Regions from separate parts of the Homo sapiens genome. Here region 2 is linked to region 1. Evidence: fine-mapped expression QTL. A gene starts in region 1. The other region holds a variant in brackets. All regions are shown on one strand. Distances are from middle to middle. Region 1 holds the start of LSR (lipolysis stimulated lipoprotein receptor). Region 2 holds the start of MAG (myelin associated glycoprotein).

Region 1 (5,257 bases):
AGGGAAGTGGTTTGATGATTTTGTTAACAGCTGTATTCCCAGGGCCCAGAACAGCACCTGGTATATGACAGGTACTCAAAAAATCTTCGTTATTAAATTAAAGAATGGAAGGATTAGCAGAAGGAAGAATAGTAGAATAGAATCGCTCCCTTTAGGCTGGGTATGGTGTCTCTCAGCACTTTGCGAGGCCAAGGCGGGCAGATCATTTGAGGTCAGGAGTTTGAGACCAGCCTGGCCAACATGGTGAAACCCCATCTCTACTAAAAATACAAAAATTAACTGGGCGTGGTGGCACGCACCTGGAGTCCCAGCTACTCGGGAGGCTGAGGCAAGAGAATTGCTTGAACCTGGGAGGTGGAGGTTGCAGTGAGCTGAGATCGCACCACTGCACTCCAGCCTGGAGTCCAGAGCAAGACTCCATCTTCAAAAAAAAAAAAAAAAAGAATTGCTCCCTTCAATGGTCCTTTCAGACACTGGCACTCAAGAGCTTTCAGATGGGGACTCCAGGTCCCGCACAAGGACGCCAGTCCCACCACCCGGGCAAGCCCAGCCTCATCCCCCTGCCCTGCCCAACATACTTCCGGTGATGGTAATCCTCCGGCCCTGGTAGTAATCTCCCAGGGTCACAGCGTTGCCCTGCTTGGTGGCCACGACCCTGACGGTGCGCACGCTGTCCTGGCACTCAACGTAGGGGTTGTAGCCTGGGTTCCCGGCTGCCAGCTGGGCATTGAGCTGGTTGTCGACGCTGGCCGGGGAGAAGGCATCGGCGATGCGGTCCCGGCAGAAAGACTTGTACTTCCAGATGACGATGGGTTGCGTGGGGGTCGAGGTCATCTGGTAGGTACAGGGCAGGGTCACAGGCTGGAAGAGGATCACCACGTGGTAGGGGTTGGACACGGTCACCTGGATGGCCCTGGCAGGAGCTGAGGGCAAGAGGAGAGACAGCAAGGGTTGCTGTGAGCTCAGGGAGGTGCTTCAACAGGAACGCCACCTGTCACCAGCTTGACACTCGCAAGTATGTGGTTTACAGAGTGCCTGGCACACATTGTTCCTTAATTGCCAGGACCAGTGAGGTAGCCACGATAATCATGCCCATTTTATAGACCCGTGGGGCTGAAGTGGCAGGTGCACGGTGACACGGCCAGTTTCCTTGGACTCGCCCGCCATCCCTCTTCCCAGCCTGTGGCCTCTGAACCACACCAGTCCCCTCTTCCCTTTGCCATTCACCCACAACAAGGGGCCTCTGTGTGGCCTGGGCAGGCAAGCCCAGATGGCCATGTTGATGCCCCCAGCGCCCAAGGCCCCACTTCAAAACCGACTACGAAGGATTCCAGGTTACCCGGGGCCTTTTGAATTTGGAGGGAAAACCATGGAGTTGTTTGCCTGAACTGCTTTGCCATGGAGGGACTAAAGCCCCCACAATATCTCCATCAGCCTCCCACCACCTCACCCTACTCTAAAGTCATTTCAAATGACTGAACCAAAAGTGTCTCGGGAAAGACCTCATCACCACCCAAATATCCCATCCAGGTGAAAGCCTGCCAGCAGAAGTCGGTTTCAAGTCCGTAAATCCATCCCACCAGACTCTTACGCACGTATAATCCGGAGCCCGCGGGAGGTGGGTGGGGTGCGGGGGATGGGGAGTCCCCAGTCCCACACCCACCCGAGGCCTAGGCATTGTTCCTTCGTCTCTGTCCCTCTAGGAAGCGTCTGATCCAGCCCTCCCGTGCCCTCTCCCCGTTACTCCAAAACTTAGAAATCCCCGGGTGCGCCCAAGTCCCATCCCGGCTTTTCTTTTCCCAGAGATCGGGCGGTCTTCCACTCCCTCCCCACAAAGAGTTCCATTCTCCCTGCCGCTCCGGGTCTCACCGTCCAGGGAGTTTCACTTCCTGCTATCTTCCAGATAAGGGCGCGGGGAGCGCTCCCCGGCACAAATGGGGAATTCCTCTCACTCCCGCGCGCAACAGATCGCCCAAGACCCAGGGGATCGGAAGGTCCCAGCCTCTGAGACCCCCGCTTCCCGCTTCCCGCCGCCTCCAACTCCATCCATCCCCCTCTACAGTTCCCTCCGGCGTTCCGCAGCGTCAGAGGCCCCGTGCCCCGTACCTGTGCACCAGGTGCTAAGCAGAAGCCACACGAAGACGACCGCGTCCCGGCCTGCGGCGGCCGGGTGGGAGCCCAGCCCTCTGGAGAGCCCGCCGGCCAACAGCGCCATCGCGGCCGTCTGGGCGCGTCTGGCCCGCGCGTCCCTTCCAAAGTACCTTAGGGGGCGCGGCGCGCACCAAGGCCAGGAGGGGTGCACGCTCCTCCCCTTCCCACTTCCGTTCCTTGTCCCTACTCCAAGTCCGTCCTGTTGCATTCTGGAAGTTTTAATGAGCGTAAACGACGTGGACAAAGGGCATGCTTTCAGATATGGGGGAGAAAGGTGCTTGACCCGCCGCGGTCCTCCGAGCCACACTCCACCCGCTGCGCGCTCCGGTGAATGGTTCGGCCCAGGTACACAAGGGTGGGAGCCGAGGGCTGGGCTTAGGGGTGAGCGGCGGGGAGGGGTTCCTCTGCCTCCCTCCCCGGAAGTGGGCTGACCCAGGTGCGCTCCGTCCCCCAGGGCCCGAACCAAGTGACTGGCCCGCTGGGAGGGCGCCTGCGGACCACAGGTCCCTTCCGGCCCCCATCTGCTCCGGCCAAACCAAGCGCACCGAGATCCATGCAACCGAGACCCACTTGGAGCGATTCACCTGTTGAGATAGGGCGGGTCCCGCCGCGCACCTGTTCCCTCCCTGCCCAAACCCCTCTCCCCGGCTGGCGATGGACCCGCCTAGGTGCGCCCTGCCGGGAGGAGCGAGTCTAAGCAAAGTCCTGGCTGGGAGAGGCTTGTTGGTGGCGCCTGACTTCTCCACTTCCACTGGGGTTCCTCCGGACCGGGTGGAGGGGGGGCGCTTCGGGCCTCCTGTGTCTCCCAGTTAGATGACCTGAGGAACCCTCTAAAGTCCCCGGAAGGGAAGCTCTGCCCCCTCAGGGATGCCCAAGGGGAATCAGGGCCAGGAAAAGTTGGAATTCCACTTCGGAAGTTTTCGCCACCTCCCCCACCCGTTCCCAACTTGTGGTTCGGCCCCTGGGCATCCCTAGCCCCCGGGTCAGCCCTCCGGAAATTCTGGCTCTTAAAGGGGCCGAGCGAAGGCGCGGGGCTTGGGACCGGTTTCCGCTTAGGAATTCCCGGAACGAGCCACCTGCGACCGAGGGCGGGGGCGCGGCGCGGCGATCAGCCTGCGCAGCGCTGGGCGTGACTCTGCTGTCTCCAGGTGGCGGCGAGGGAAAGCGCATCCTGGGGGAACCCTGGGCGCTTCCTCGCGTTAGACTCCCCCAGGTTGCCAACTGGCCAGTGGCTGGTTTCGGTACCCAGGCGTGCTTTGTTCTACTGGCCCTGTTAAAACTCAAGCCAGATCACGTCCACCTGCTCACAGCCCTCCTGTGGCTCCTCCTCACTCTCAGCAGAAACTGACCTTCCCCCTCTTATCTCACCTCCTCCCACTCTCTCTGGCTTACTCAGCTTCGGACACCCTGGCCTCCTCGCTGTTTCCAACTATACTTCTCACAGTCCTCAGAGCCATCGCCCGTGCTACTCCCTCTGCCAGAACACCCTTCCCGCAGATGTCCACATGATCTTCCTCCTCCTGTAGGACACCATTGCAGTGACACCTTCCCTGGCCACTTTTTATAAAATTTCAACCCGTTCACGTCCCTTCATCGTTTAAAAAAATATTTTTATGATAAAATATGCAAACTATAATATTTATCGCTTTAACCACTTCAAGTGTAAAATTCAGTGGCATTAAGTATATTCACAATGTCGTGTACCAATCACCACTCTTTATCCCCGAAACTGTTTCATCATCCCCAACATAAACTCTGTGACCATTAAACAGTAACTCCCCATTCCCTGCTACCTGTGCCCCTAGTAATTTCTATTCTACTTTGCTTACCAAATTGCCCATTCTAGGTGCCTCATATAAGTGGAATCGTCTAACATTTGTCCTGTGTCTAGTTTATTTCACAAAGAATAATGTTTTCAAGGTCCATCCATGTTGTAGTATGTCGAAGCCATGTAGCATGCAGTAAGATCAAAATTTCTTTTTACAGCGGACTAGTGTACCATTGTATGTATATGCTACGTTTTATTTATCCATTCATTTGTGGATGGACCTAGGTTGTTTCTACCTTTTGACTATTGTAAATAGTGCAGCTGTGAACACTGGTGTACAAATATCTGCTTTCATTTCTTTTGAATATATGCCTAAGAATGGAATTGCTGGGTGACTTGGTAGTTCTATTTTTAACCTTTTGAGGAACTGCCAAACTGTTTTCCCCAATGACTGCACTATTGTACATTCCCACCAGCAATGCACGGAGGATTCCAATTTCTCCACATCCCCACCAAAACTTATTATCCATTTTCTTGATTATGGCCATCCTGGTTAGTGTGAAGTGGCATCTCATTGTGGTTGTAATCTGCATTTCCCCAATGACTAACGATGTTGAGCATATTTCCACGAATTTATTGTCCATTAGTATATCTTCTTTGGAGAAGTGTCTATTCAAGTACTTTGCCCATTTTTGAATTGGGTTGTTTGTTTTTTTGTTGTCAAGTTGTAGGAGTTCTATATATATTTTGAATATTAATCCCTTGTTAGATATATGATCTGCAAATATTTTCTTCCATTCTCCAGGTTTTTTCACTTTCTTGATAGTGTCCTTTGGTGCACAAAAGTTCTTAATTTGATGAAGTTCAATTTACCTACTATTTTTTCTTCCTTGTACTTTTGGTATCCTATTTATGCAGTTGTTGCCAAGTCCAATGTGATGAAGATTTTCAACAATATTTTCTTCTAAGAGTTTTATAGTTTTAACTCTTAAATTGAGTCTTTGAGCCACTTTATTTTATTTCATTTTATTTTTTGAGACTGAGTCTCACTTTGTCGCCCAGGTTGGAGTGCAGTGGTGTGATCTCCGCTTACTGCAACCTCCACCTGCCGGGTTCAACCGATTCTCATGCCTCAGCCTCCCGAGTATTTGGGATTACAGGTGCATGCCACCACACTGGGTTAATTTTTGTATTTTTAGAAGAGATGGGGTTTCACCATGTTGGCCAGGCTGGTCTCGAACTCCTGACCTCAAGTAATCTACCTGCCTTGGCTTCCCAAAGTGCTCACATAGGTGTGAGCCACTGCACCCGGCCTGGGCCATTTTAATTTTAGTATGT
Region 2 (5,481 bases), 41 kb before region 1:
GCAGTCACTAACAGCCCACTGCCCCCATCCACCTCCCAGATTGCAGCCTGCAGGTGTCTGATCACCTGGACATCCTTCCATTCTTCGGCCAGATGCAGACCTCCTCCACCCCATCTGCCCCGCACTCGGGAACCCCAAGGAAACCTCTCCTGCAAAATCTTCACCCACAAGGGGTGCTGAGGGGGGGCCCTTTGTTTTTTCTCTCTGTGGTTTCTTCCCAGAGCCCCATCGCTGCCCCAGCGATGGTCCGAGCCCATCCCCAAAGCAGCCCCAAGCCACACACTCCTGCATCCTAAATCAGTAGCGGTGCACAGCGATGCTCCCTCACCCAGAGCACCTGACCCTGCTCACGTCTGGGTGCCACTGCCCCGGTGCCCTGCTCCCCTTGCCCTGGCCTCCCTGCCACCATACTCACTTGGACTCAGTTGCTTCTGCACCTCTGCTCCGCCAGCCCAGCTCGCAGTCCCCTGCCTTCCAGGGTCTAGGCCCCCACTTGCCAGCCCCTCCCCTCCCCCTGGGTGCCAGGGGCCGCCTGCCTCCAGGGCCCAGCTCCTCCCTACCCCCGGGGGAGGGGGGCACAAAGGGGCCCTTGTCACCACGGGGCTCGGACTGGGCAGCCTGACGCCTGGGTTCTCCTAGCTCTTTCCTGGAGGGGTCGGGAGTGGCTGCCTTGCTCTCTCCCCATCTTCCATCCCTGTACACCCTGATTCTGGGTCCCGGGGGTGGGGGGGCAGTCTAATCTCTTTGGAAGTCCCAGGCTGAGGGACAGAGGCATTGTCCTCAGGGAATCTTGGTGGCAACATTAGGTGGGCAGCAGGAGGAGACAGGTCCTTTCCACCCTCAACGTCAGTGTCACCTCCTCTTGCCATCTGAAATGACCTTCCGTGTTCACCAACTCCTTTCATGAGAACGTGACCTCCACCAGGCCAGAAGCTTCGTCTTGGATATTCTCAATCCATCCTTGCTCGTAGACAAGCTCCTGGCAGGCAGTTGAGCTTAATAAACAGTGTGGGTGGTTGAATGTGTTCCCCAGAGCCCCAGGGCACCTTCAGACTCAAGGCCTGTGCACCTGCTGCTCATTCTTCCTGGAAAGCAGTCCCCACCCCATAGCACTCCCCACTCTGGCACTGGCTGCCGTTCACCCATCCTGTAGGCTCAGCAGCCTGGGTGCCGCTTCCCTGGGAAGCTTTCCCATCTTCGCCCATCAGCCAGGCCCCTCCATTGCAATGCTGTCCTTTCCTTCTGTAGCCTTGGCAGGCTGGCCCGTGTGCACCCTAGGTCTGCCCGCCTCTGCCTCCCACTAACCCAGGAGCTCTCAGAGGCAGGGGCTCACCAGAAACCTATCTGCCTCTCTGTCTGTCATGTGCACCCTTCTGTCCCCGGGGCAGTGCTTGGTGCACATAGGACTGTGCTGACCAAGTTGGGCAAGGACCCTCTGAGTGCAGATTCCACCCCTTGGTCATGACTTTTGCAAGGTGGGTGGGGGCTCGGGGCAGCTGGAGGTGGCGTGACAAAGTGCAGCAGTGATTTCACCATGAGCTGTTCAGCCTCACTGGGACATCTCCTGTCCTCCTTCAGGCCAGAGCAGTGGGGAGGGGGGGTCCTCGCTCTCAAGGGAGAACCCAGGGGGTGAGGGGCGGGGAAATCCCTCAGACCAGGGAGAGAAGCGTTGTGGGGCTGGGGGGGAGTTGGAGGGGGAGGGGGAGTCCCACCCCCACCCCAGGCTTCATGATGTCAGACTCTGCCCGTGCCTTTCCCAGTCCGGGACAAAGGACCATTGAGAGTCGGGCGGGGCTTGAATGCCTGGGTCCTGGAGAAGAGAGGGGCCTGGTGCCTGGGCTTTGGTGGTGGTGGTCGGGGTGACAAGGAGATCCTGGGGGGTATTTGCATGTCACAGCCTTCAGCATCAACACCCACCTAGTTGGAGCTGGAGTCGTGTGCTGGTGCAGTGTGGGGCTCCATCTCCTCCCTGGGTGTGAACTGAAGGCTGTTGCTGGGGAGAGGACAGTGTCCCACAGGAGCACTCGCAATAGTCGCTGACATCAGCAACTCGGGTCTCCAGGAGACCTGTGGGAGCGAGGCGGCTGGAGCCCATGAGAGGAAGGGGCTGGGTGACAGGACCTGTGACTGGCGGGCAGGTGCCCTGTCTAAGGGGACAACTGACCCGCAGATCCAGTGGCCGGTGCTGCCGTATCAGCTGATCTTTTACGAGAGAGCAGGTGTATCAGTTTTCCAGGGCTGTTACAACAAAGTTTCACAAACTGGGTGGCTTAAAAACCGGAATTGAGGCCATGCACGGTGGCTCACACCTGTACTCCCAGTGCTTTGGGAGGCCAAGGCGGGCAGATCACGAGGTCAGGAGATCGAGACCATCATGGCTAACACGGTGAAACCCTGTCTCTACTAAAAATACAAAAAATTAGCCGGGCATGGTGGCAGGCGCCTGTAGTCCCAGCTACTCAGGAGGCTGAGGCAGGAGAATGGCGTGAACCCGGGAGGCGGGGCTGGCAGTGAGCGGAGATTGCGCCACTGCACTCCAGGCTGGGCAACAGAGCAAGACTCCGACTCAAACAAACAAACAAACAAACAAACAAAAAACCCTGCCAGAATTGAGCTTGAATTCCAAGATCAACAAGATCAAGTGCTGGCAGTGTTGGTTCCTTCTGAGGGGTGTGAGGATCTGTTCCGGGCCTTTCTCTGTATGGCATCTTCATCTTCACATTCCCTTCCCCCTGTATTCACCCCTGCCCAGATTTGCCGTTTATTTATTTA[T/C]TTATTTATTTATTTATTTATTTATTTATGTTTGAGACATAGTATTGCTTTGTCATTTAGGCTGGAATGCAGTGGTGCAATCATACCTTACTGCCACCTCCACCCTCCAGATTCAAGCGACTCTCTTGCTTCAGCCTCTCAATAGTAACTGGGACTACTGGCACTTTTTTTTTTTTTTTTTTTTTTGCTAGAGACAGGGTCTCACTATATTGCCCAGGCTGGTCTTGAATTCCTGATCTCAAGCAGTCCTCCTGTGTTGGCCTCCCAAACTGCTGGGATTACAGGTGTGAGTCACTGTACCCTGTCAGATTTAGGAAACCAGTTATATTGGATTAGGATTCTCCCGTCTCATTTTAACTTGATTACCTCTGTGAAGACCCTGCCTCCAACTAAGGTCACATTCTGAGCTACTAGGCGTTAGGACTTCAATGTGAGTTTTGAATTCCTAGCAGCAGGAATTCAGAATGAAGCTCTCGGCCATGGGGAGCTCTCACTTAAAGCTTAAAGCTCTCATAGATGGGAGCTGAGGCTCAATCCATCCAAGAGCCTTTGCTGCCCTCAGACAATGGTGTCAGCTTCACAACCAGTCCTCCACAGGACTGCAGCTTGCTCAAAATGCAAGGTCAAGGGCCCCGCCTTGCACCTGTGGAATCAGAAATTCTGGAGGCCCAGCTATCTGCAGTTTATTTGTTTATTTGTTTTACAGACATCGTCTCACTGTGTCACCCAGGCTGCAGTGCAGTGGTGCCATCATAGGTCACTGCAGCCTTGAATTCCTGGCCTCAAGTAATCCTCCCGTCTCAGCCTCGTAAACCACTGGGATTATAGGCATGCTCCACCACGCCCAGCCTCATCTGCATTTTATTTTTATTTATTTAATTTTTTTTGAGACAGAGTCTCATTCTGTCACCCAGGCTAGAGTGCAGTGGCAAGGTCTCAGCTCACCTCAGCTTCTGCCTCCCAGGTTCAAGCAATTCTCGTGCCTCAACCTCCCGAGTAGCTGGGACTACACGTGTGCACCACCACACCCAGCTAATTTTTGTATTTTTAGTAGAGACGGGCTTTCACCATGTTGGCCAGGCTGGTCTCGAACTCCTGGCTTCAAGTGATCCTCCAGCCTCAGCTTCCTAAAGTGCTGGGATTACAGGCTTGAGCCACTGAGCCTGGACCCATCTGCATTTTTGCAGGCCCTCCAGGAGATTTTGAGCACGCTGAAATTTGAGTATCTCTGCTTTACATGTTCTCCCATCTCTCTAGGACCACCCCAGAGAACTGCTTGCTCAGGAGAGAAGAGCACCCCGTGTCATTAAGTGTAATTCCTGATTTCAGGTTTCCCACCTGCCAGGAGGGAGGCCTCTACCCTCTCCTGTCAATATGAATCCTTTACATTGAGGAAGCATTGGACAGTTTCCAAAGCAATTTCACACTCATTCCCTTGGTTGAGCAGCTCTAGAGCCAGTTAAGCTAAGTCCTGTATGGACTTAGCTTCTGTTCCTTTTTTGTTTTTTTTTTTTTTTTTTGAGATGGAGTCTTGTTCTGTCACCCAGGCTGGAGTGCAGTGGCATGATCTTGGTTCACTGCAACCTCTGCTTCCTGGGTTCAAGCGATTCTCCTGCCTCAGCCTCCAGAGTAGCTGAGATTATAGGTGTGCGCCAACACGCCTGGCTAATTTTTGTATTTTCAGTAGAGACGGGGTTTCACCATGTTGGTCAGGCTGGTCTCAAACTCCTGACCTCAGGTGATCCACCCGCCTTGGCCTCCCAAAGTGCTGGGATTACAGCGTGAGCCACCACGCCCAGTGCCTCTGTTCTTTTAAAGGTAAGGAGAGGCCAGGCATGGTGGCTCACAACTGTAGTCCCAGCATTTTGGGAGGCTGAAGTGGGAGGATCATTTGAAGCCATGAGTTTGAGACCCGCCTGGGCAACACAGCCAGATCCACGTCTCTACACAAAATACAAAACTTTAGCGGGGCGTGGTGATAGGCACCTGCGGTCCCAGCTACTCAGGAGGCAGAGGTGGGAGGATCGCTTGAGCCCGGGAGATCAAGACTGCAGTGAGCCATGATCACACCACTGCACTTCAGCCTGGGCTATGGAGCAAGACCCAGACTAAAAAAATAAAATAAAAAATACAGATGAGGAGGTGGAGCTCCGGATATGAAGAAGATGCATGCAAGATGTTACAGCTAATAAGAGGCCAAGCTCACCACAACTCCCCTCTCCCTATCCCTTCAGTTTTCATTCAGGAAACCTCCCCTCCCAGAGGACAAGCCTCTGTGGATTCCAAAGCGAAGGCAGACATTGATGGTGCCCCAGACTGATCTGGCGCCCAGCTGGGCTTCGTTTGGCTCACAGAATGTTGATGTTAAAAGACAAATTGCTTTGCTCAGTTGCCAATACTGTCAAAGCAAGAAATCTCTAATAAAAATAGGAATTCCCACCTTCTCTTGACAAAATCAGAAGTTCTAGTCAGGTTTACCTGCCTTGGGTGTGGCAGCCGTGTCTTGGAGCCCTCTCCCGCCCAGCCTGGGCCTTCCCACTCCCTGCCCACACCCAACATTGAGGCCGAATGACCAATGCCCTTTACCATCAAGTGAGAGCTGTTGCTTCCTGGGAGCTAAGAAGACAGTGAAATAACAGCCCCTATGTCTGTTTCTATCAAATGTGGGCAGGCCAGGCCCACCTGTAATCACAGCATTTTGAGTGGCTG

Evidence for each region. PIP is the estimated chance that this variant, and not a neighbour inherited with it, causes the effect.
Region 2: its variant is the best candidate, but not a certain one, in a credible set for the expression of LSR in subcutaneous fat (FUSION, PIP 0.64).

What each region holds. Positions count from the first base shown.
Region 1 is chr19:35,245,981-35,251,237 of GRCh38, reverse strand. LSR (lipolysis stimulated lipoprotein receptor) reads right to left here and starts at 2,236. Exons shown (of 10, transcript NM_205834.4): 1 at 2,107-2,236; 2 at 579-923. The coding sequence starts at 2,215. RefSeq lists silencers at 2,073-2,142, 2,553-2,632 and enhancers at 1,745-2,546, 2,547-3,349, 3,483-3,652.
Region 2 is chr19:35,287,139-35,292,619 of GRCh38, reverse strand. MAG (myelin associated glycoprotein) reads right to left here and starts at 459. Exons shown (of 11, transcript NM_002361.4): 1 at 416-459. The variant T/C (reference allele first, on the strand shown) is at 2,773.